Linked DNA regions of Homo sapiens. The protein of the gene in region 3 purifies or fractionates together with the protein of the main gene of each other region. This does not show direct contact. Each region holds a gene or a part of one and is shown on either strand. Other genes may lie near its edges.

What was found.
Region 1: the proteins of HCRTR2 (region 3) and SLC25A46 purify together in Homo sapiens (affinity purification with mass spectrometry; one large-scale study listed by BioGRID and IntAct). This does not show direct contact.
Region 2: the proteins of HCRTR2 (region 3) and SLC30A5 purify together in Homo sapiens (affinity purification with mass spectrometry; one large-scale study listed by BioGRID and IntAct). This does not show direct contact.
Region 4: the proteins of HCRTR2 (region 3) and NLRX1 purify together in Homo sapiens (affinity purification with mass spectrometry; one large-scale study listed by BioGRID and IntAct). This does not show direct contact.
Region 5: the proteins of HCRTR2 (region 3) and TSPAN15 purify together in Homo sapiens (affinity purification with mass spectrometry; one large-scale study listed by BioGRID and IntAct). This does not show direct contact.
Region 6: the proteins of HCRTR2 (region 3) and ATP13A3 purify together in Homo sapiens (affinity purification with mass spectrometry; one large-scale study listed by BioGRID and IntAct). This does not show direct contact.
Region 7: the proteins of HCRTR2 (region 3) and ACTR3C purify together in Homo sapiens (affinity purification with mass spectrometry; one large-scale study listed by BioGRID and IntAct). This does not show direct contact.

Annotation. Positions count from the first base shown.
Region 1 is NC_000005.10:110,745,507-110,749,006, reverse strand, and holds part of SLC25A46 (mitochondrial outer membrane protein SLC25A46), read right to left. Parts: intron 2,739-3,500; coding exon 2,661-2,738; intron 845-2,660; coding exon 744-844; intron 1-743. UniProt on the Homo sapiens protein: Transmembrane protein of the mitochondrial outer membrane that controls mitochondrial organization.
Region 2 is NC_000005.10:69,100,514-69,104,013, forward strand, and holds part of SLC30A5 (proton-coupled zinc antiporter SLC30A5), read left to right. Parts: intron 1-293; coding exon 294-416; intron 417-2,548; coding exon 2,549-2,615; intron 2,616-3,448; coding exon of another isoform or gene 3,449-3,500. UniProt on the Homo sapiens protein: Together with SLC30A6 forms a functional proton-coupled zinc ion antiporter mediating zinc entry into the lumen of organelles along the secretory pathway.
Region 3 is NC_000006.12:55,177,515-55,181,014, reverse strand, and holds part of HCRTR2 (orexin receptor type 2), read right to left. Parts: intron 1-3,500. UniProt on the Homo sapiens protein: Nonselective, high-affinity receptor for both orexin-A and orexin-B neuropeptides. Triggers an increase in cytoplasmic Ca(2+) levels in response to orexin-A binding.
Region 4 is NC_000011.10:119,178,725-119,181,620, reverse strand, and holds part of NLRX1 (NLR family member X1 isoform 1 precursor), read right to left. Parts: intron 1,929-2,896; coding exon 1,333-1,928; intron 451-1,332; coding exon 364-450; intron 1-363.
Region 5 is NC_000010.11:69,482,465-69,485,964, reverse strand, and holds part of TSPAN15 (tetraspanin-15), read right to left. Parts: intron 2,275-3,500; coding exon 2,089-2,274; intron 825-2,088; coding exon 750-824; intron 1-749. UniProt on the Homo sapiens protein: Part of TspanC8 subgroup, composed of 6 members that interact with the transmembrane metalloprotease ADAM10.
Region 6 is NC_000003.12:194,431,503-194,435,002, forward strand, and holds part of ATP13A3 (polyamine-transporting ATPase 13A3), read right to left. Parts: intron 2,395-3,500; coding exon 2,270-2,394; intron 391-2,269; coding exon 215-390; intron 1-214. UniProt on the Homo sapiens protein: ATP-driven pump involved in endocytosis-dependent polyamine transport. Uses ATP as an energy source to transfer polyamine precursor putrescine from the endosomal compartment to the cytosol.
Region 7 is NC_000007.14:150,289,046-150,292,545, forward strand, and holds part of ACTR3C (actin-related protein 3C isoform a precursor), read right to left. Parts: intron 549-3,500; coding exon 405-548; intron 1-404. UniProt on the Homo sapiens protein: May play a role in the suppression of metastatic potential in lung adenoma carcinoma cells.

The DNA.
Region 1 (3,500 bases), on a different chromosome or scaffold from region 3:
TAGATCTCCATAAATCTGTCTATACAACTCCATTTATTTTATACTGCCATTTGAATATATCTTGATCAGAACATCTATATATTAAAAAAAGAAACACATTCCAAACCCATAGAGAATAAACTTAAAAAGGCACAATCGTATTTTAATGTAGCACCTCAGCTTCTTTTCCTGATATTCAATTTCATACATACCCAATATTCCAAACATAAGACACTTCTTTTATTACCTAGACTGTCCAACCCCGTGACATTGGACATGTTACCTCTTCTTGCTTACATGTGTCTCCTTCATTAAATGAATACTTAAAGAGCGGGAATTGCTCACATACCCACATTTGTTCCTCAGCTGGCAGTTGCTGGCACATAGCAGTAGAAGCTGAAAGATACATCTCAATAGATACTAAGCCAAGACACATTTTCTTTATCACATACTAATTTAATAATATATAATTAATTTTATTCTTTGTTTTTTCTTTTAGTTACTTCAGACAAGTTTTCAGATTCAAGGTATTTTTTATTTATTATTAAAACAATATAATAGGGGAGGGATGGGGACAAGGGTTGAAAGCTACCTATTGGGTATGATGTTTACACAATTGAGAATTGTTGGATGAGAGGATCATTAGAAGTCCAAACTTTAGCATCACACAATATACCCATGTAACAAGCCTGCACATGTACCGCCTGCATCTAAAAACACATCACCACATGAAACTAATACTGAAGAAATGCTAAAAATGGTACCTTGGCAAAGGTGTAAATTCACTAATTATGCCTTCTGCTCCAAGTGTGACTCCCTGGACAATAAATGTACTTCCCATTCCTTTCCACAGGGCTCTAGGTCCCTAAATTGAACAAAATTCATGTTATTTCTGTTAATACCTACATCTGAAACACAAAAGATCTTAATAAAACTTGATATTGTGTAGACATTTTCCAATAAAACATTATTCTAATAGAAATATTAGTAGAGAACTACAATTAATTTTATATCATTTTAAAGTTATACTTAGGCCAAGAAGAACATTCCTATTAATTAAAACCCCTAATGATTAACTAATTTATTAAATATCCCTAATATCTATATATTCAACTCCCTACTAGTCCTGTCCTGTGGATGACACAAGGTAACTTGAAACTTACATATCCACAACTTAACCCAATCATACTCACTCATACCACACCAATTCTTTCCTTCTCTGCTGTATTTCCTATTTCCCTAGATAGCAGCTTCATCATCCTAGTGTCCAAACAATATATCTAGAAAACATTTTTATCTCACTCTTCCTATCTAATCAGTCCCCAGGTTCTACAAATTCTACTCCCTTAGTATCTTACAAATCCATGCTCTTCTCCATACTTAACACTATTACTTTATATCAATTTGACTACAAGTTTCACTGTCTCTGGTTTTGCCCCTTTGCATGATACCATCAGTAATACTCCTATTATTTATCTATATTATCTATATTATTAATAGATATACATGATAGAATTAAAAAGAAGCAATAGGGTATCAGCTGAAAAGTCTGTCTCCTTTTCATCCCAGTCCTCAGCAGCAGTTTTAAAATTTATCGGGATAATCCATGCATATACAAGTATATCTGTGTGTGTATGTTATAGAAATATTTTTGTTTTGCTTATTTTTAACAGGTAGTATTATCTTGAAACATAAAAAATATCCTGGAGATCATTCCACATTAGTATACACAGAGCTACCCTCTTATTTTTAAAGGTTACAAGGTGTTTCACCATAATATACCATAATTATTTCACTGGTACCCTAGTGATGGACATTTAATCATTTCCAGTCTATTATATGCAATGTCATAGGACATCCTTGTATATATATTTTTGCATATATATGTGCACATCTATGTGGGATAAGTTCCTGGAAGTGAAAGAACATGTACATTTTAAATTTTAATAGATATTGCCAAACAATCCAAAGGTCTTCAAGATATTTTGGTCATGGCTAAAACACCTTCAACAGTACTCTTGTAGCTTTTAAGATCTAGTAGTGTGCAGTTCTTAGAAGGTGCTTTAGAATCTGGATCCTGCTTACTTCTCTGGCTACTTTTTCATCTTTCTCTTACTCTTCAACCCCCACTTCAAGCTCCCATTGTACTCCATTAAATCCATTCCCAAACATTATGATCTCTCTTTGTCTTCTGCCTTCACACGTCTACTTTAAAAACCTTTTCTCTATCCTCATCATGAAGAGTCAGACTTCTCAACAAGAAGCACACAATTCGGGCCTTTCTTTTCCCAAAGTTTTTCCCAGCCATACACTGTGCCCAAGCCCAGTTTTGATAAGGTACTTCTCTTTTGTATTCTGACAGCATTCTGTACTTCTAATATTGCCTTTATCTTACTGCAGCACAATCTTCAAAGATTTTGTCTCCATGAATAAATATGAGCCTCTTGATAGCAGAGACATCATCTTAGCACAGCTCTTTGTGGTTTTGCTAAATTAAATTGTACTTTTGCTAAATTACATTTTGAAAGATTCAAAAACATATCGTTGTGCTACTTTAGTTTTACTACAACAGTTAAGATGTTTTATTGACCAAACTGAAAGTAATTATTCTTGCTTTAATGATTACTAAACCCAAATGACACTTATATAAACCTTTAATAGAATCCAGACAAAATTCTCACCTGAGTTTTGTTGAAACTGTACATAATATTGATGACTGTAAATGGAGTGAGATGGTAATGCTGAGCATGGTAATTAACCTGTAAAAAAGATATTTCATTATTTTTTTCTGTTAATGTTTTGTCAAGAAATAACAGAGCCATGAAAGAAATATGGTGGAATTGCAGTATAAACAAAAGTTAATTCCAAAGTCAACATAAATTACACATAAGCAAAATTACTCTTAAAAGTGCTTTAAATAACCTATTAAAAGTACAGTATGTATGGTTATATAAATACAATCTGAAGACCAATGCATAATACACACAGTACTGTAGACTATATAATAAAGAGGGTCTTATTTGATATTTGGTTTGCCTTAAACAACTGAATTACATCTCCCAACTCATGTTCATTTTAGGCAAGCATTTTTCAAACTGTACTTGGCAACTGACTGGTATATGAAATCAACTGGGGGAGTGTCAAAACAATATTTATTATGTGAAACAATAAAATATTAGAATGTATTACATTCTAATGGTATTATTTCATAAAACATTTAAAAATAATATATTTGTTACTTATATGTAATGTATCCATTGGATCTCCATGTTAATATTACTACAATGTAAAATATATATCTGAAATACACTGTTCTGTGGCACATACAGTCAATGCTACTTTAATGGTATTTCTGTATACATACTTTTCAGTGCTAAGCATGAACAGATTAATTTATAATGATTTATACTGTTTTGAACTCTAACAGCTAACAAATACAGGAAGCATTACTTTACAGAGAAAGTGGGTTATAACAGGACGGGCGCAGTGGCTCACACCTGTAATCCCACCACTTTGGGAGG
Region 2 (3,500 bases), on a different chromosome or scaffold from region 3:
TAATCCTAGCACTTTGGGAGACCAAGGCTGGAGGATCGCTTGACCAAAGGAGTTCGAGACCAGCCTGGGCAACACATTGAGACCCCGTCTCTATGAGTTAAAAAAAAAAAAAAAAAAAAGTCAACAGTAGTTATCACGTGGATGGTGAGTTGTTTGGGGACTCTGTTTTGTTTCATTTTGTGTTTATGTATATTTCTGTGGTTTCTGTAATGACCTCTTGTTTAAAAAACCAGATTGATGAGCTGCTTGTAATTTCAGTGATACTAAAAATTGTTTCTGCTTTTATTTTTCAGATTAACAAAATATATTGTGTTACTATGTTTCACTAAATTTTTGAAGGCTGTGGGACTTTTCGAATCATATGATCTCCTAAAAGCTGTTCACATTGTTCAGTTCATTTTTATATTAAAACTTGGGTGAGTGTGGGGGGGGGTTTTTTCTTGATATTTTTTATTTCTTTGAAAATCCTGTTTTAACAGAGTATCTTTAAGAAACTTTACATACAATATTTTGTTTGTTCCTCCTGACAAGTATTTGATAAACTTTTTTAACTGGGAGTATACTTAAGATTAGAGGTACAAAGAGACTGAAAAGAAAACGGATTGTTGTGCTCTAATCACTTGCCTAAACACAAACTTTGATGAGATTTTTGCAAATTTAGTTTTTGGGCTATTTATTATTATTATTATTCACTGCATAATCCTTTCTTAGTACAGAGTCCTCATGTAGTGTGAACATTAATTTATTCTACTTATACGAAATGCTTTTTTTTTTTCTTTTTTGAGACACAGTCTCACTCTGTCACCAGGCTGGAGTGCAGTGGCGTGATCTTGGCTCACTGCAAGATCACTGCCTCCTATGTTCAAGCGATTCTCCTGCCTCAGCCTCCCGAGTAGCTGGGACTACAGGCGCTCACCACCATGCCCAGCTAATTTTTGTATTTTTAATAGAGACAGGGTTTCACCATGTTGGCCAGGATGGTCTCAATCTCTTGACCTTGTGATCTGCCCGCCTCAGCCTCCCAAAGTGCTGGGATTACAGGCATGAGCCACCACGCCTGGCCTACATATAAGAAATTCTAAATAAAGATTTCTTGGACCTTGAGATTGATAGTGACCACCCTCTGTGTTAATAAAAACCTGTTAAAGACTCTTGGGAGTCAGCTGGGCACGGTGGCTCATGCCTGTAATCCCAGCACTTTGGGAGGCGGAGGCAGGTGGATCGCCTGAGGTCAGGAGTTGGAGACCAGCCTGGCCAACATGTCGAAAGCCTGTCTCTACTAAAGATACAAAAATTAGCCAAGCGTGGTGGCATGTGCCTGTAATCCCAGCTACAAGGGGTGCTGAGGCAGGAGGATTGCTTGAACCTGGGAGGCAGCGGTTGCAGTGAGCTGAGATCATGCCACTGCACTCCAGCCTGGGCAACAGAGCGAGACTCCATTTAAAAAAAAAAACAAAAACAACACTCTTCGAAGTATAATTTTGGTAAGTTGGGAAAGAGATTATTGACTAGGAAATATTAAGCACCAGTGACGTGCTTTTTTTTTTTTTTTTTTTTTTTGAGACAGTCTGGCTAGGTTGCGCAGGCTGGAGTGCAGTGGCTCAATCTCAACTCACTGCAGCCTCTGCCTCCAGGGTTCAAGCAATTCTGTCTCAGCCTCCTGAGTAGCTAGGATTACAGGTGTGTCCCACCATGGCCAGCTAATTTTTGTATTTTTTTTAGTAGACACGGGGTTTTGCCATGTTGGCCAGGCTGGTCTCCAACTCCTGACCTCAGGTGATCCGCCCACCTCGGCCACCCAAAGTGCTGGGATTACAAGCTTGAGCCACTGTGCCTGGCCAAGTTGTGTGCATTTTTATATAACTATTTTGGCAATGTGAAAGGTAGGGATATATAATTAGTAATTTCTTCATTTTCATTATACTATTTCAAGATTTATTACTGAATTTTAGAGAAAATAGGAATTCTCTTCTTTGATATTTTAAGATATAAAAAAAATTGTGACTCCTTTATTTTTGTGGCTTGTTAGCTGGTTCTGAAGACAGTTAGAAAATAAGAGTTCTCGGCCAGGTGTGATAGCTCATGCCTGTTTTCCCAGCAGTTTGGGAGGCCGAGGCAGGCGGATCACCTGAAGTCAGGAGTTCGAGACCAGCCTGGCCAACGTGTTGAAACACCATCTCTACTAAAAATACGAAAAATTGGCTGGGCGTGGTGGCGCACACCTGTAATCCCTGCTACTCAGGAGGCTGAGGCAGGAGAATTGCTTGAACCCGGGAGGCAGAGGTTGCAGTGAGCCAAGATCGTGCCACTGCACTCCAGCCTGGTGACAGAGCAAGACTCCATCTCAAAAAAAAAAAAAAAAAAGTTATCAAAATATTGCAATAGGAGTTTTACTAAAATAAGTATAATTAATTCTCCAGTATGATTTATTCAGAGGATAACACTTCAAGTTCTGGCATATTTGTTTAAAATAAGTGTCTTTACTTAAAACTGTATCTTGTGTTTAATATGGATTAATATTAATATATTAATGTTTCAATATTTACAGGACTGCATTTTTTATGGTTTTGTTTCAAAAGCCATTTTCTTCTGGGAAAACTATTACCAAACACCAGGTAAGATTTTTGCAGAATCTTTTATTCCTAGCAGCTTCTCGTTTAGTGGGCCAGGAGGCAATGCTTATTTTTTATAATGGGTACTTAATGAATGATTTAAGTATGCCACAGAACAATTTTAGAGTTAACTTGCTCTTGTCTTTTCAGAATGGAGACTTTAAATCATAAAGTACTAAGATCATGGAATGTTTTTAAAAAAAACAAGAGGGTAAAAAAAATTATAAAGCATTCATGTAATTGTTTTCTTCAGTACACACTTCTTATTCTGAAAGATTTACAAATTGGACATGAAAGCATGCCCAAGAGCCTAGTACAAATGTCACTGGAAAGCTGACAAAGCATAGGGGTTAAGAGTGTGATTTCTGGAGTCAGACAAAGTCATGTTCTGTCTGTCCTCCTTACTGACCCTTACTTTGGGCAAGTTACTTGATTTCTCTCTACCTTAATTTGCTCACTGTAAAATGGAGATAACAGTAACTTCCTAACAGAACTGTGAGGAAAAATGAATTAATACTTATGAAGTTCTTAGAATGATGCCTCATCATCATTGTGACAATGTGACACCCTCATGATCATTGTCACTGTTCTCTTTAGGCAGCTGTGATTCAAACTAGAAATGTCCTACATTTTGCATAATCATCTCACATCGTCACTTCTTTGGGCAGCAGTTATACCATAGTACATGTTTGCTTTATGCCATGACTTACAAACCTGCGTCATAATTTTTTTATTAGAAAGACGAATTTAAGTACTTCTGTTTCAGAGACCAAGAACATTTTTTAAAATATGATTAATAGTCTAAACCCCATTTTAACTTTTTTCTCTCCTTTCAGATAATTGGATCACTAAAAATTCCTGGTAGAAAAGAATTTAAAGACAAAAAGT
Region 3 (3,500 bases):
CCAAGATGGTGAAACCCATCTCTACTAAAAATACAAAAAAAAAAAAAAATAGCTGGGCATGGTGGCATGTGCCTGTAATCCCAGCTACTGGGGAGGCTGAGGCAGGAAAATAGCTTGAAGCCAGGAGGTGGAGGCAGCAGTGAGACGAGATTGTGCCACTGCACCCCAGTCTGGGTGACAGAGCAAGACTCCATCTCAAAAAAAAAAAATTAAAAAAAGTTCATCTATTTAATAAAATCAATAGCAACATGATTTGTTTAAATAAATACTATTTATTTGGCAATGCATGACAAAAAGAAAAATAAACAAATATCTGTAGATTATGTGAAGTGTTAAGTGTTTAGGCTCTCAGGCTCAAATTGTGTCTAAAAATAGCACTTTCAATAACAAAATAATCCTTGGCCACAATTATCTAACATTTTTTTTCCAGTGAGTCAACCCCCTGAACAGGTAAAAGCATTTTTGGCAGCACCTATTTTACCTTGAAATTTTCTCTTGTAAAGTAACCCTAGCCCGACCTTGATTGGCTTATCAAATGAGCTCATCCTCAGAGCTGAAGAACTGTAGTCTATCAGAAAAACAGCATGGCAACATGCCCAAACAACTCTGTAAATTGTCTAGAGGGCACATCTAAGTATCTCTTCCTTCCTCTTTTTGCCTATGCATCTCCAGTCAGGGTTAGAAGCTAAGGAAAGAGGCAGGATGAAGTAATGGAATAAGCATGGACCATGGAATTTGTTAAATCCATATTTGAAACCTAGTGCTGCTATTTACTGCCTGACTAAACTTTTGAGTAAGTTAGCATTGCTCTTTGAATTCATTTTTCTTATTTGTAAAACCTATTAATCTTCTCATTATAAGTTTGTTGTAAGGCATCAATAGAGTATATGTAAGTGGAGCCTGACATATAGTACCTGGCATATAGTACCCAATAAATATTCAACAAATTTCCTTTGCAGGGAAAAAAGGAACTGAAGACAAATACCGTCAGCTTCACCAATCACATGTCATTGACTGAAACATACTTAATAAAGCCAGCATTCCTTAGGGTGGAGAAGATGTCAGAATGCTATAAGAAGAAACATGGAAGGATCTTCTTTCACTAGTTAAATAACATCAGCAGTGGATGTTTCGGAGCGGAGTGAGAATATGGAGACTTTGAGATGCTAACATAGCTGCAGTACATGAAAATTTTCAAATATAATCTAAAATACAAAATAAGGAAAATTAATATAAATCATATGATACAATTTAGTATGTAGGCACTACTACAATCAAGACAGTTTTCTAAAAACTGGAGCATTGTGTTTATGTTTGAGTTTTAGATTTGGTCTCTTGAAAACTGGTATTTTTTAATTATCCCATTTCCCAAATATATTTTTTCAAATACAGAAATAACTCATTGCATTTAAATTATCAGTTGCACATGTTATTCTCATTATTGTCTGTCCATGATAAATGTTGCTGTTATCTATGAAATAGCCATCTTAAAAGTTATCATTGGGATTTTAAGTCAAAGATATAATTTATTTTACTAAGTAAGACTAAACAGTTATGATTTTAGCAAAAATGTAGAGGCATCAGATTAATTCTTATTCAGATTAGCATGTTTGCATTTTAAAACTAAAATGCACAATAGGTTTAAAGCCTAATAGTTAATATTACCTTTTACAGTCACTATTCATGATTCTATTGAGTCTTGGCCGAGATGAGTGATGTATTATTTCTATATCTAAAAAGGGTTTAGAAATAACCCCTTTTTGCTTCCTGTGTAGGTAAGGATGGGTTTACAAACACCCATGAAACTAAAATGGGCATTCGGAGAAGCAGAAAATAAATGTCTCTAGGCTTAGGAGTAACATGAACTTGCAATTCTACCACTTACATATCTGACACAAGACTAACTCTGTAGGAAGCAAACTTATTACAAATATTTCCCCATTCCACACACCTAACTTGGGTAAACTGTTATTAGGTAAATTACTTAATGGATAATTTATTTTAACTATGAATACTTCACAATGTATTTTAACAATGTATGAGTTAAATCAACATATTACCAATGTGTGTGTTATTTAAAACACTAGTAGTGATAGACCTGCCTATCAACAACCTATTAACAACTCAAAAACTCTAAATGAATGGGACCCAGCACAGGCAAATTTAAGTTGAGAGAGAAAGCAAACTATTCCAATAGTTAGGAATGGCTTTCATTTAAAGGCAAGAAGGCAATGTTAAGCAATCAGTATGAAGGAGATGGGTGGGTGGAGCTAGTGTGGAAAAGGAGAGTAATGTGTGCCAACACCATTTTATTCACACCTTTTAGGAAAATATGCAATTAAGGAAAAGGCTGGGGCAGAGGCCATAAAGAGCTACAGAGATACAGACTGGCCCATGAAGGCAGAAGCTGGCTATACACCACATCACAAAAAGTTCAGTCATGAAAATTAAGGGATAAAAATTGACATTAATTAGTGTCTATGTGTCAAGAAAAATATGTATATGCCTGTGTCCCTTTATATGTCTTTATAGAGGGTATACGTACATTATATCCTGATACTATTTCTATAATGCAGTCATTATCGATCTTTAATTTGTAATTATAAAAAAATTGACTTGGATAGTTCAATAACTTGCTAATGGCACACAAGAAGCAAGAAGCATAGCTAGACTGATGTTTTCCTATTTTCCATATGGAGACAACAACAGATATGACAGAAGCATACCAGATGAAACATATGATATCTTTGAATGCAGATATGAGAAGCAGAAAATTGATCATTTTCCCTAGGTACTTAATGTTTAAACTGACTAGAACACATTTCTCCCTACAATTGTCATTCAAGGAATCAGGAGTAAAAATTAACATCAGTCACATTTCTTTACATTTCCCCAGAGGCTCCCCTGATATACACACTAATTTAAAAAAATGATAATGCTCACAATATACCAATTGAATAAGTTGATACATCTACTTAGCTGTAGTAGAAGACATAGTTAGGAATAGGTTATAGGTGGCATTATTCTGAAGATACTGAAAAGATACTCCTTCCAAAAAGAACCTTACCCTATGCTCCTTCCTTAGAACTTAAAATTTCACATTAAACATGCTTACAGCTTTTCATTGAATGTAAATACTCATAACATTCTATTTAAAACTTTACTCCCCCAGGAAACTGCTTTCCATCTTTGGGAGGAGTATATGAGAGTGGAGAGGTGGCATAGTGATAAAGAGGGACTATGGGGAGAAGAAAAAGAGATGAGGACAATCAAGACTTTGTTATGCTACCCACAGCATATCCTATTACATCACTTCATGAAAGGACATTGTGGAGAAGATGACTTCTAACTGATGGCATTATATTTGTAAGCCCAAAAAGGTTGAGATTTTCCAAGCAGTTATATGAAAGTACAAATGGTGACTGGACCTGAAGGCTCAGTGATTACATCTGCTGCCTACACTGTGGTATTTTACCTTCATACTTAATATTGCATCTTTA
Region 4 (2,896 bases), on a different chromosome or scaffold from region 3:
GGTGTCTACTGAGTGCCCAGCATTAGGGTCCTCCTCGGGAGGCTGCAAGAAAAATCCTGGGAGGGGATCAGTGGCACTGTTACCAGGCAACCGGCCTAGGTATTATTCCACCCTCTCTCCCCACCTCCCCCAGGCTGATTTTAGCCACGTGAGAGGTTTCTTAGCACCCATTACAGGTGGCATGTTTCCCTGCTGCCCTGCTGCTTGCAGTGGACCTGGGGGAAGTGGAGGGGACAGGTCAGGGCCTAGACTCTCCTCCATTTACTATCCCTTGGGTGGGTCTGTGCCAAGTATGTCAGGAAGCAGGGAGCTCACCCTTGACCTTAGCTGGCCACCAGGATGCCCCACTCCCAGGTCACTCACCGCAGTGTGGTAATTTGGCACTGGTCATGCAGCAACAGGTCTCGGAGGTCCTTGCAGGCCTCAGGGCCCAGGCTGTTGAGTTGCAAGCTGGAGCAGAAGGTGGCCAGAGGGGAGGTGAGAGACCAGGGAGGGAATTCAGCAGGCAGTCTGTCCATCTACCATGCCTTTTTTTCATCAGCCTGCCTCTGGGAATCTATACCTGCTTCCCCTTTTTTGAGAGACAGGGTCTCACTCTGTTGCCCAGGTTGGAGCACAATGGCATGATCACAACTCACTGCAGCCTCAGACTCCTGGGCTCAAGCAATCCTCCCACCTCAGCCTCCCGAGTAGCTGGGATGATAGCTACATGCCACCACACCTGACTAATTTTTTAATTTTTTGTAGAGACAGGGTCTTGCTATGTTGCCCAGGATGGTCTCAGACTATTAGGCTCAAGTGATGCTTCTGCCTTGGCCTCCCAAAGCAGTGGGATTACAGGCAGGAGCCACCATGCCTGGCTCCTCCCTTCTGTTGCTCCTGTCACCTCCACCCAAACTAGACTTTTTTTTTTTTTTTTGAGACGGAGTTTTGCTGTTGTTGCCCAGGCTGGAGTGCGATGGCATGATCTCAGCTCACCGCAACCTCCGCCTCCCAGGTTCAAGCAATTCTCCTGCCTCAGCCTCCCAAGTAGCTGGGATTACAGGCATGCACCACCATGCCTGGCTAATTTTGTATTTTTAGTAGAGACAGGGTTTCTCCATGTTGAGGCTGGTCTCGAACTCCTGACCTCAGGTGATACGCCCGCCTTGGGCTCCCAAAGTGCTGGGATTACAGGTGTGAGCCACTGCTCCCGGCCCCTAAACTAGACTTCTTCATCCCACCTTCTGGTCACTCATCGGTACCTCTGGTTTCCCTGGCACTTTCTTTTCCCACTTCTTCACCTCCAACCCTCTTCCCTCTTCATGCCTGTGCATGAGGATAGGTCCTCACCCCAGCTTCCGGGCACGCAGGAAGACAGGCAGGAGTGTGCGCAGCCCAGCAGGATCTAGCTGGCAGGAGGCCAAGTTCACCTCATCCAGGGCATGCCTTCCGCTGCCCAGCACAGCTGCCACCACTGTGCACTTGACTGGTGTCATGCGCACACCTGCCAGGTTGAGCTGACGCAGGGAGCTGAGCACCTCAGCGGAGAAGCGCTGGTTCTGGAACTCATAGTGGAAGAAGAGGTGGTCAAGGAGCTCTGATGGGGGCAGCACCTGCCGGCCCAGCTTGCCCAGCTTCTTCTTGATGGCCTGGGCATTCTCCAGGGCATCCAGGTTCTTGATGGGGCAGCCAAGCTGAGCTAGCACAGCTCGGTTGTGGGCAGAGAGAAGCCCCCCCATGAACATGGGGAAGAGCTCGAAGACTTCATCCTCAGGGGGCTCATCTGGGTGGCGCCGGGGGCCCTCCACGCCCAGGATACTGGCGCCCATCTGGTCCAGAACATCATCGTTGTAGTAGTCCTCCTCTCGAAACATCTCCAGCACCATGGCCTGAGCCACCGCCTCCCGGCTTTTACCCACCATGCGCCCAAACACTCGTGGAACCACCTGAAAAAGAAGCAGGGGAGAGTCACTGTGGCCTTCCATGTGCCTGTTCAGCCTTCAAGGTTCAGCTTAAGGTACACTCCCATGACTGCTCCAGCCCTGTGATCTCCCCTTGAACTTAGCATAATTTGTCTGATCATGCTACTCCCCTGCTGCGACACCTTCCATGGCTCCCTACTGCCTATGTGGCAAACTCCAAACATTTAGCCTGGAATATGAAACGTTTCTTAAAACTAGAGATGGGGTCTTGCTGTGTCACCTAAGCTGGTCTTGAACTTCTGGGCTCCCTAGCTTAGGCCCCCCAAAGTGCTAGGATTATAGGCATAAGCCACTGCACCTGGCCCAAAACTTTTCATAATTTGGCCCTAATTTGACCTTTCCAGGGTCATCTCTCAACACCTGTCTCATGTGCTGCAGACATTAGGAACTTCTTTCTCTTTCCCAAACACCCTGATACATTTTCAAACCCAGGAGGTGGTGAGAAGGAATTAGCATGTATTACACACTTAGTTTGGGACCGGGCTAGGTATCACAAATACATCACCATCTTCAACATGCAGTTCCTACTGCTTTAAGGGCCTGTGTGATCTGGGCCCTGCCGACTACGATGCCTTCATCACAAGCCTCTTGGCCCCACTCGCTATGCTCCTGCCCTTTCGGCTTTTTTCATCTTAACAGTGCCAAGGTTTTTCCTCCTTCAAAGCCTCCATAGGCCAGGTGCAGTGGCTCATGCCCGTAATCCCAGCACTTAGGGAGGCCGAGGTGGGAGGATCACTTGAGCCCAGGAGTTCTAGACCAGCCTGGGCAATGTAGCAAGATGCCATCTCTATTAAAAAAATTTTCTTAATTAAAAATAAATTAGCCAGGCATGGTGGCATGTGCCTGTAGTCCCTTGAGCACTGGAGGTCAGGGATGCAGTGAGCTGAGATCACACCACTGAACTCCAGCCTGGGCAACAGAGCAAGACCCTG
Region 5 (3,500 bases), on a different chromosome or scaffold from region 3:
CAAACCCTGCCAGGGCCAGGATGCCAGGCATCACCCTGTCAACCTGCCCCTCTCCTCACTCCTCTAGCCGGCATAACAGCCTCTGATGGTACTGCCTCCAAAATATACATCAAATCGCCTTTTTGGCCCAGGCCCACTGCCTCCACCTTGGTACAAGCAATCTTACCCCATTCCCAGGATGACCCCCCACAGCCTCCCAGTTGGGCCCCTGTGTACACCCTCAACTCTTCACTGTCCATTCCCCAACTCAGCAGCCATGGTACAATATAAACTGGGTCACATCGCTTCCCACATAAGACTCTCCAAAGGCTCCTGTCACCTCTAGAAAAAACTCCAAGCTCCCAACTCATGGCCTACAAGGACCTCTGTGATCTGCCTGGCCAGCCCTTTCGACTTCACCTTCCACCCCTCTCCACCCCACCTACCCTCAGCCACGTGGCCTCCACGCTGTTTTGCTCACATGCTAAGCTCATTTCTGCTCAGCTTCCCTCTGCTGGGACCTCACTCAGCTGGCTCCTTTTACCATTTCAGCACGGGCCTCCCATCTCCTCCCCAGGCGCTCTCATGTCAGCTTGGTTCATTTTCTTAGTCGCTGCTTTACTTGTTCAGTGCCTGTCATTCTCTTTCAGCAGAATGAAAGCTCCATGGGGGTTATCTGCCCTGCTCACTGCCATACCCCCAGTTAGCCCAAGGCACCCACAGTGGGTGCTCCATACACACATGGCCGATACACAAATCCACAGGCCCACCTGGTTCCGGAAGGTCAAGGCCACCACGCCACCAATGAGCTCCATGATGAGGCAGATCCCAAGGATGTACATGAACTGGAAAACAGAATTCAGAGACTCACCTGGAGAGGAGCAGTGGGCGTGTGTGGGGTACAGGGGAGGCACCATCTGCTCCAAGAGCAAGCACAAAGAGAAGCATCCCTCGGGGAGCTCCTACCAGCTCCTAGGCCTCTGCCCCCTCCTCCTGTGAGAACGTGGACGTGGACAGGCAGGCCCCAGGAAAACCTGTCTCTGGAGCCGGAGGGCAGGAAGAGTGACTCAGCTGTCCCAGCCAAATGGTTACCTCCATTTGTCTTGGGGGTCTATGTGGAAGAGCACGCCCTTCCCCCACCACCATAAGGAGAGCTGGGCCTCGTTGCCACTGAGCCAGAGGGGCTAGGCCTGGCTTAATGGGCAGGCTGGGGCAGTATGTCCAGCTCCCCACAGAGAGCCCTCAGATGTGACTTCCCAGATCCCCCACAGTGGGTGAGGGGGATGGCTGAAGCTTAGAGGATATGCACCCCCACCTCTGCCCTTTACTAGAGAGCAGGCATTACCCAAACTGATTTCAGCAAATTCCAGCCTCAAGTAGCACCCAAACCCGGTTTACAGTGGATCGTAGGGGCTTCCCATATGAGGGGAGACAATGAGGTCAAGAGACACACAAGTGCAGAGTGAATGGATCTGCCTACTCACTACCCCCAGCTTTAGGGAGTCATCCCTCACCCCACAATAATGGGATACAGGTAGGATTGACTCCCCATGCCCCATCCCAGAATGGGCACATGGCCCAAGCCAGGCCCACCAGAGTCCTGGGACTTTGGCCAGAGCTGGTAGGAAAGATTTCCTGAGATCTAGAACCATAAGGACTTTGTTGGCCTGACGCCGGCAGTGACCACTGCAAAGGGAGCAGCCCCGGCTGGCAGGGGCTGGGGAGATTGCCCAACCCTGCCCAGTGGCGCCATCTAAACCCCTGGACCCAGTGTGGGTTTGCTGGTTGCATGAGCTAATGACTCACTACCATCTCCTTTTTTTGTCTTTGCTTGCTCTCATTTGAGTGTGGTTTTTCCTACTCGCAACTGAGCATCCAGATGAACACAGAGTTTAAGTAAGAACAGTATTCAAATCAGCTTTTACATGCAGGAGGGGAGGTGGCCTGGGCATTCTTGGGCCAGTGTGGTCAGATGGGCTGATCTAAGGAGCTCTCTAAAGGAGGTGGTTTGAGGCAGGGACAAAAGAAACTGAGCTGCCCAAGGGCACAGGGGCAGGCGCCCCAGCTCTCCTGGGGAGTCCCGGCTGAGGGGTGGTGTGGTCCACTCACTGCTTGGAGAAGGTACAGGTTGTCACGGAGGGACGCCAGCACACCAATGAAGGAGACCATGAACATGACGACGCCCAGGAGGATGAGGATGATGGCTGGAGCCAGGAAGGCACTTTCAAGGGTTTTATATTTCTGCCGCTCAACCTCTGCATAGATGCCCACAGACAGGACCAGGGCCCCAATCAGCTGCAGCAAGAAAACAGAGGGTGAGAGAGAGACTGAGGTCACTTGATTTTCTACAGCAAAGAGTCATCTGGGGCTGTGGTACCTGCTGTGGGGGAGGCTTGCCCCAGGTTACAGCACAGAAAGGGCCCTGTTAGCGGCTGAACTGTGTTTCCCCAAATTTTCTCTATTGAAATCCTAACCCCCAGTACCTCGAAATGTGACTATATTTGGAGACAGGGCCCTTAAAGAACTAATTAAAGTTAAAATGAGGTCACTAAGGTGGCCCTAATCCAATATGACTGGTGTCCTTATAAGGGGAAGAGATTATGACACAGACACTCACAGAGGGAAGACTGTGTGAACACGCAGGGAGAAGGCAGCGTCTACAAGCCAGAGACAAGCCTCGGAAGAAATCAACCCTGCAGGCCGGGCGCGGTGGCTCACACCTGTAATCCCAGCACTTTGGGAGGCCGAGGCGGGCAGATCACGAGGCCAGGAGATCGAGACCATCATGGCTAACACTGTGAAACCCTGTCTCTACTAAAAATACAAAAAAGCAGCCGGGCATAGTGGCGGGCACCTGTAGTCCCAGCTATTCGGGAGGCTGAGGCAGGAGAATGGCGTGAACCCAGGAGGTGGAGCTTGCAGTGAGCCGAGATTGTGCCACTGCACTCCAGCCTGGGCAACAGAGCGAGACTCGGTCTCAAAAAACAAAAAACAACAACAACAACAACAAAAAAAAAAAATCAACCCTGCCACCTTGATCTTGGACTTCTAACCTCCAGAACTGTGAGAAAATAAATGTCTATTGTTTAAGCCATTCAGTCTGGTACTTGATGTTATGGCAGCCCTAGCAGACTACTACAGACCCAATCTGGAGATGCCACTTTAGAGGAGAGTATAGATGGGTTAGGGGAAATGCCACTGGCTGGAGGGTCAGAGAACATGGGTTCGAGCCCCAGCTCTGCTACTTGCTAACCCTGGGCCTTGGACAGGCATTTGACCATGTGAGTCTGTGTTCTCATCTGAAAGACAGACTTGAAGACATTCATTTCTGCACTGCTCACACCACGGCTTTCGCGAGTGAATGAATGTGGAAACACTACAAACCTGGAAGTGCGAGGCCGCCACAACGCGTATTAAACAGGCAGGTCACCCCGTGCTCAGGGCAACAGACATTTCACACAGTACCATAACACGGAATTTACTTTCAGGATGACCACAGAGAAGGCCAAAGGTTGGAGCAG
Region 6 (3,500 bases), on a different chromosome or scaffold from region 3:
TATGCTTCTCATCTTAGCTAAATATCAAAATTTGAACATTGAGATTCCTGGGTCTGTCCCAGTCCTAATGAAACATAATCTCTGAAAAAATAGCCCTGACTTCTGTTTTCATTTAGTTTTTGCTTTACTGTGTTTTAATGCACCACTTTTTTTATTTTTTCAGACTAAATTTAAATCAACAAACTTTAAAACGGACAGTCGATCTTGACCTTACCTCTGGGTCAATTGCTGATGGATGACTGCACTGCGTGAGGGAGTCTGCATAATGCCAATTTATTTTGGCAACTTTCCCATCCTTTGGAGGTAATGCTTCAGCAATAATCACTTTATCCTGAGGTAGAATCATTCCACAATCTCTGGCCACAGAGACAGCAGTCAACATACTGTCACCTAATTTTCAAAATATTTTAAATGTATTGAAATTAAAATGGAAACGTGAACGTATCAAACATGTACTTGCTGAGAATCTACTACAGTCTCCATGACTGGGCTGGCAGAGTAACGATAATGTATGGTTCTTCCACTTACAGTTTAAAAATAACAAAATTGGAGCATACTTATCAAAAGAAGCCTCAAATAACGCAAGCACGTTATATGCTAAAGAAAACATCTCACCCACAATTTTTAAAGCCAAATATAATTCTCAATCTTTTCCAGTCATGCACTATTTGTATCTACACAATACCTGGCACGGTGCTACACACAGATCAGGTGGCTCAATAAATACTTACCGAAATAACTTTACAAAGTGACTAGTGGTCTGTGCAAGAACACCAGCACCATATCATAGAAAATGATGAATTACAAAAGCAAGATCATACAAAACAAAAAGGTAAGACAGGTAATAAGAACAGGTGTAAACGAGAAACAAGAGAGACAACTTCTCAGTCATGAGAAGAAAGAAGAGCAGCAAGAACAGGATCTTATTAAGGAGAAGCAGACAAAGGTTTGTGGATCCCACTGCTACCAAAACAGAAGAGCGAGATATTTCTTTCCTCAATTTCCACACACTATTTCCAAGAATATCTTCCTATGACCTTTGGTACACAAAGCCATATTCTGGCAAGGGGAAAATAAATAAATAAATAAAAGAGGAGGACGAGGAACAGGTGAAAAGTGTCTTGACAAAGAAGACGCAAGAACTAAGAATGGCTGGAATGCTAACAGACTTAGTTACCTTGAGTTATACGGTAAAATTATGTTATTAGATAGATCTCAAGAGTCTAAAACACAAAAATGTATACAGACTTTCTCCATATTAGTCTTACTGAACACGTAAGTGCCATTAAGTATCTTAAATCTGATTATCTGCTAAGAAAAAAAAACAAAAAACAGAGCTACCACAATTTCACACAGCTAATGAGTAAGAGTTATCTAATATTATCAACAGTATAGTAACATCAGGAGAATCCCTTAGATGTACTAGAAAAAAAAAAGTAGGCTATTTCACTAGAATTCAAGCTAGGGTAATAAACAATATCTTACATATAAACATTTCATGCTATCGAATATCTATTAATCATTTTCTATGTAGCTGACAGTTCTAAAAGTTGCAAAGGACCCCAACATGAGTAAAATATACTCCTAACCCTCAAGAATCTTATATTCTAGTACAGAAAACAAATCTACAAATAACACAAGGTACAATAAGTGCTATAAGAAATATACGAATAAAGAGAGAAAACAAAAAGGAGTCAAGTTTAAATTTTTACAGTGTACTTTTACTATTCTTTTTTTTTTTTTTTTTTTTTTGAGACGGAGTCTCGCTCTGTCGCCCAGGCCGGACTGCGGACTGCAGTGGCGCAATCTCGGCTCACTGCAAGCTCCGCTTCCCGGGTTCACGCCATTCTCCTGCCTCAGCCTCCCGAGTAGCTGGGACTACAGGCACCCGCCACCGCTCCCGGCTAATTTTTTGTATTTTTAGTAGAGACGGGGTTTCACCTTGTTAGCCAGGATGGTCTCAATCTCCTGACCTCATGATCCACCCGCCTCGGCCTCCCAAAGTGCTGGGATTACAGGCGTGAGCCACCGCGCCCGGCCGTACTTTTACTATTCTACTACACTTTCTATAAATAGGATTCGCTAGACCTCAAAAAGAATATGACAAAGTTATCTTGCGCTTGGGAAAATATTCAGAGCTAAAAGAGAACTTAGGTTGAAACCACTATAGACTATATAATATGATTTTATAACTGATTATCCCTCAATATAATATAACTTCAGCTCTGTCACACTCCATTTGCTTCTGTGTTCTTTTATAAAGTCTAACCTGTGACCATGACGGTGCGAATGTTGGCTTTATGCAAATCTTCAAGTACTGCAGGGGTTTCTTGCTTTAATTTGTTCTGCATTATAATTAATCCCATAAAATCCATGTTGTTCTCAATTGCATCTCTGCAGAAAAAGAAGTTTTAACACATAATGGTTTAGTCAATTGAGTAAGCAACTTATGTACACAAACTTGAAATATCTAAACAATTAAAAATGTCTATAAGTTATAATGCAGTTTAAAATATCTATAAATGAAAACATTTTATATGCTGAATAAACCACGTGTGTGTTCAAGAGTTCAGTATCTCAATATAATAATCATTTGGAAATGTATGTCACTGTACACTAAACAATTCTAATACTAAGGAATATTCATTTTGTGTAGTATCCAAAAATAAGCATAAATCTATTCTTTACTGCCCTCTACAACATATCCTAATTTAAATGTTAAGTGAAAAAGAAAAAACTGTGCCACAAGCACATTCAATACAGTTTTCGTGGATTCATTATCAAGTCTCAGATCAATTCTATAAAACAATTACTGATCCTGAAAATGTGACACAAGAACCATTAGCAATCCAACAATGAGATCTACTTGGGACCCAGAGATGGGTCTTTGAAAATATTACTAATATAGTTATCAAGATGCTATTCTTTAAATAACTGAGTATCAAGAATGCAGCAGGCACTATGCTAGTCACTGGGAGGTTAAAGACAAAAAGGGATGATCTCTGCTCTCAAGACACTTGGGTGGGGAAACAGACATGCAACCAAAGAGATGCACACAAAAATAGTACGTGCTTTAGCACTATAAAAGAGATGAAGTCTGTTCAGTGATAGTTACGTTCTTAAGAAATCTCAGGTCAGGCATTGTAGCTCATGCCTGTAATCCCACCACTTTGGGAGGCTGAAATAGGAGGATTGCTTGAACCTAGGAGTTTGAGGCCAGCCTGGGCAGCATAGTGAGACCCCGTCTCTACAAAAAATGAAAAAACAATTAGCTGGGCATGATGACATGTGCCTGCAGTCCCACTACTTGGAAGGCTTGAGGAGTGAGGATCATTTAAGGCCCAGGTGGTCAAGTCTGCAGTGAGAAGTGTTTGTTCCACTGCACTCTAGCCTAAGCAACAAAGAGAGATCCTATCTCAAAAGAAACAAACAAAAAAAGAAAACAAACAAAAAACACCTCAACCTACCTGAATTATATCATAGAAATTTTTTTCTCAATG
Region 7 (3,500 bases), on a different chromosome or scaffold from region 3:
GTGTGAATTTTGTGCAATAGCTCTGGATCCTAGGTTGGCAGTGTTCTGCTGCTGTGGTCGCCTCCTGATTCTACAGCGAAGCATGGAGGCAGTATGGAAGGAGCGCTCTGGTAGATGAGGCTCCAGCAGTGAGGCTCCAGCTGAACAATGCTGCCTCTGCACGCTGGTACGCTGTACCAGCTACCAAGCTGTTCTCAGTGACAGCTGGAACCTCAGAGCATCTAGTTTGGAAGAGGTTAAGCTTTACATCTTCAGCCCACTTAAGGGGTAAAACAAATCAAGCCCCACACTCATGGGAAGGGGAGAGGATGGAAAGGAGGGGCAGGGATGATGGCACCAAGGGGAAGTGTCCAGAACACCATCTCTCTCACCCCCAAACCAGCCGGTTTCCCATCTGTTTTTACCTTAATGGCTTTTGCGGTCTCCAGTGACTGCTCAGGAGGGATTCCCACCTCCCTCTCCCTTAGCAGCTGTTGAATGAAATACGTAATATCTCTACCTGCAATCGGGATGTGTTTGATGCAGCTTCCAATTACATAACCTTCTGCCTAGGGAAGAAGAGGAGGCAGAACAGCTGTGTTAGTGATTTCGTGGTGGAGAGCAGCCTGGACTCACGAGGTTTCCTGCCTCAGCCTCCCTGTCTGCCCCTCACGGCACTGACAAGCATTGACAGAATCCCCACCCTCTGCAAGCTCAGTACAGAAGGTCTTTCAAAAGGACTGCATATGCAATTCCATTAATATTCAAAATTCCAGATTATTCCAATAACCTGACACTCTCCAAAAGCAACCAAAATGATTTCATTAGGAATATGAAAAGAAAAACCACATAAGATAGTTCATTTCCAAAAAGAAATGCTGTCTGTAAGAACACTAAACCCAATAGGTTCTTTCCCTAACAAAAAGGAAAAAGTTTTATTTATAAATTGTTAAGCCAACTATAAATCTACTTACGTTTAAAAGTCAGCAATTTGGTTAATACACAGGGCTTAGATTCTAACAACCTGGACTCAAATCCCAGCTCCACATTTGCAAGTTTCACATGCTTCAGCCTCAGCGCGTTTGTCCATCGTATGAGGCAAACAATACCCTGCTGGGGCCAATGATACAGTTCAGATGAAACTGCGTGTGTCGAGCACACAGCACTGGTTTTGGGGGCTGGGAGCCTCTCATTCCACTGCCTCCCTAAGCCAGTGAAGGCATGTCTGTGAGGGGCCAGGAAAGGAGGGTGACCACGACCTGGGCCGATCAATGGCAGGGCCAGTGTCAAGTGTCCACATGCCCACAGCAATGATGGGCCCAAAGCTCCCTCATCAGCCTTCCTGTGGGCACAGACCTGCCACAGGAGCCACAGGCTTGGACACACATCCAGCTTGTTCTACAGGGGATGAGCAGGATGCTGACCGTCAGAGTGGACAACGCCCACCGCTGGATCATCCGGTAAAGACACTCAGGTTTCACGTTACAGCACATCACAGCTTCTGTGCCACAGTCCCCAAATGAGACAGAAGGGAACAGAAGTGAAACGCTGACTTCATTTTACAGATGTATTCATTCTAATAGCTGCATCTAGTCACCAGTAAAGTTGCAAGAACAACTTACTGAATTCCTCCTATGGTTTCTTTCTGATATACCTAACTTCCAGAAGCAAAAAAAGATTTAGCCTTTCTGCAGAGTCCAAGTATTTGTAAAGTATTTTAAGATGGAGATAAAAGTATAAATTACTAAAACTCAACTTAAACCCATAAAAATAATATTAGCTTTCTAACACATAAACTATTCACAATTACTATATTCTATGCATTACACATAATATTTTCTAAAATACTGTTAAATAAATATCAGCTCATGACAGTGGTAAAAATATTAAAACAAGATACATGTCCAACAACAGAAAAATAAATTATGTACTTCTTAAATGTATTTTCACAGAATATTTAACCACAAGAGAAAAAAACTAGGGTTAAATTAATACGCAAAATATAACCTTAGGATTGTATTATATGTACAATCCCAAACCAGACATGAGACATTCCAATTGTGTTTAAAGTGTGTGTGTGTGTGCATGCATGCGTGCACACACGTGTCTTAGAAAAAGAGCTTAGGCCGGGCATAGTGGCTCACGCCTGTAATCCCAGCACCTTGGGAGGCCAAGACAGGCGGATCACCTGAAGTCGGCAGTTCGAGACCAGCCTGACCAATATGGAGAAACCCCATCTCTACTAAAAATACAAATTAGTCAGGCATGGTGGCGCATGCCTGTAATCCCAGCTACTCAGGAGGCTGAGGCAGGAGAATCGCTTGAACCTGGGAGGCAGAGGTTGCAGTGTGCCGAGATCGTGCCATTGCACTCCAGCCTGGACAACAAGAGTGAAACTCCATCTCCAAAAAAAAAGAAAAAGAGCTTAAAGACTATACGGCTAAAAGTATAATACAGGTCTTTGGGCGGCTTTAAAGGTAATTTTATTTCTTCAAATTTGTCTATTTTATCCAAATTTTCAATGACTAATGTAATTTTTATAGCTGGAGGAAAAACTGAACTAAGATACGATTAAAAATCTTTTCAAACAACTTTCTTAGTGGGCCTGGACACACTGTGAAATGTATTTTCTTTCCTTTTCCTAAATCAGACATAAGAAATAGGCAAAGAACCAAAGGGGGTGCAGGCCAGGGGCCTACGGGGGCCTCATCTTGGATCTCAGCAGCGCAGTTCTCTGAGGAAATGGCAGCCTGAGTTCTCGGTGAGTGCTCTGCACCCAGGGCACTAACTCTTCTCAAGATCCACCGAAAGGAGTGCTGAGACTGGCTTGAAGGGGGCTCAAGTCTAGAGCACACTTCACAGGGCAGGGCAGCCACCTCTCCTCCCCACAGGAAGGACACATAGCCAGGAGTACAAGGTATGGGGGCGGGAGGCTGGCTTTTTTCTCCCTGACTGTAGGCCCATCGACCATTAAGCCTTTCCTCTGCAGTGATACCTAACCTTCAAGGAATTAAAGGCATTGGTATTAGTACATCACCCCATCACCTTCTCAAAATGAAATGGTGACCATTTTTTCAATTAAATTAAATGATTTTTGAAAATCCTAATTTGCATTTTAAAAGAGCTGTGTGTATGTAAATATATACACAAACACACCCCCCCATATACATATGCAGAAACATTATCTGTAACATAACAGAAGTAACTAGCAATGGTGGTTCCTGAGGAGGAGACCTCAAAGGAGAAAGACCAGGATGAGTCTGACTTCCCTCTGAATACCCTCTTCAGACACTTCTGATACATTTTCCAAAAAAAATGAATTTAAGATAATTCCTTTAAATAGTCCATTGGACCAAAAGAAAAATTCAGAGATCTCTTGAAACCCAAATTAGGAATCACTTCTCTGAAACCAAAAAGTGGTATTGCAGAGCCTTCTGCAAGCCAAAATGTACAATCTCCCCTTCTTGGCTTTTAAATTTTTTTTTTTTTTTTTTGAGACGGAGTTTCGCTCTTGTTGCCCA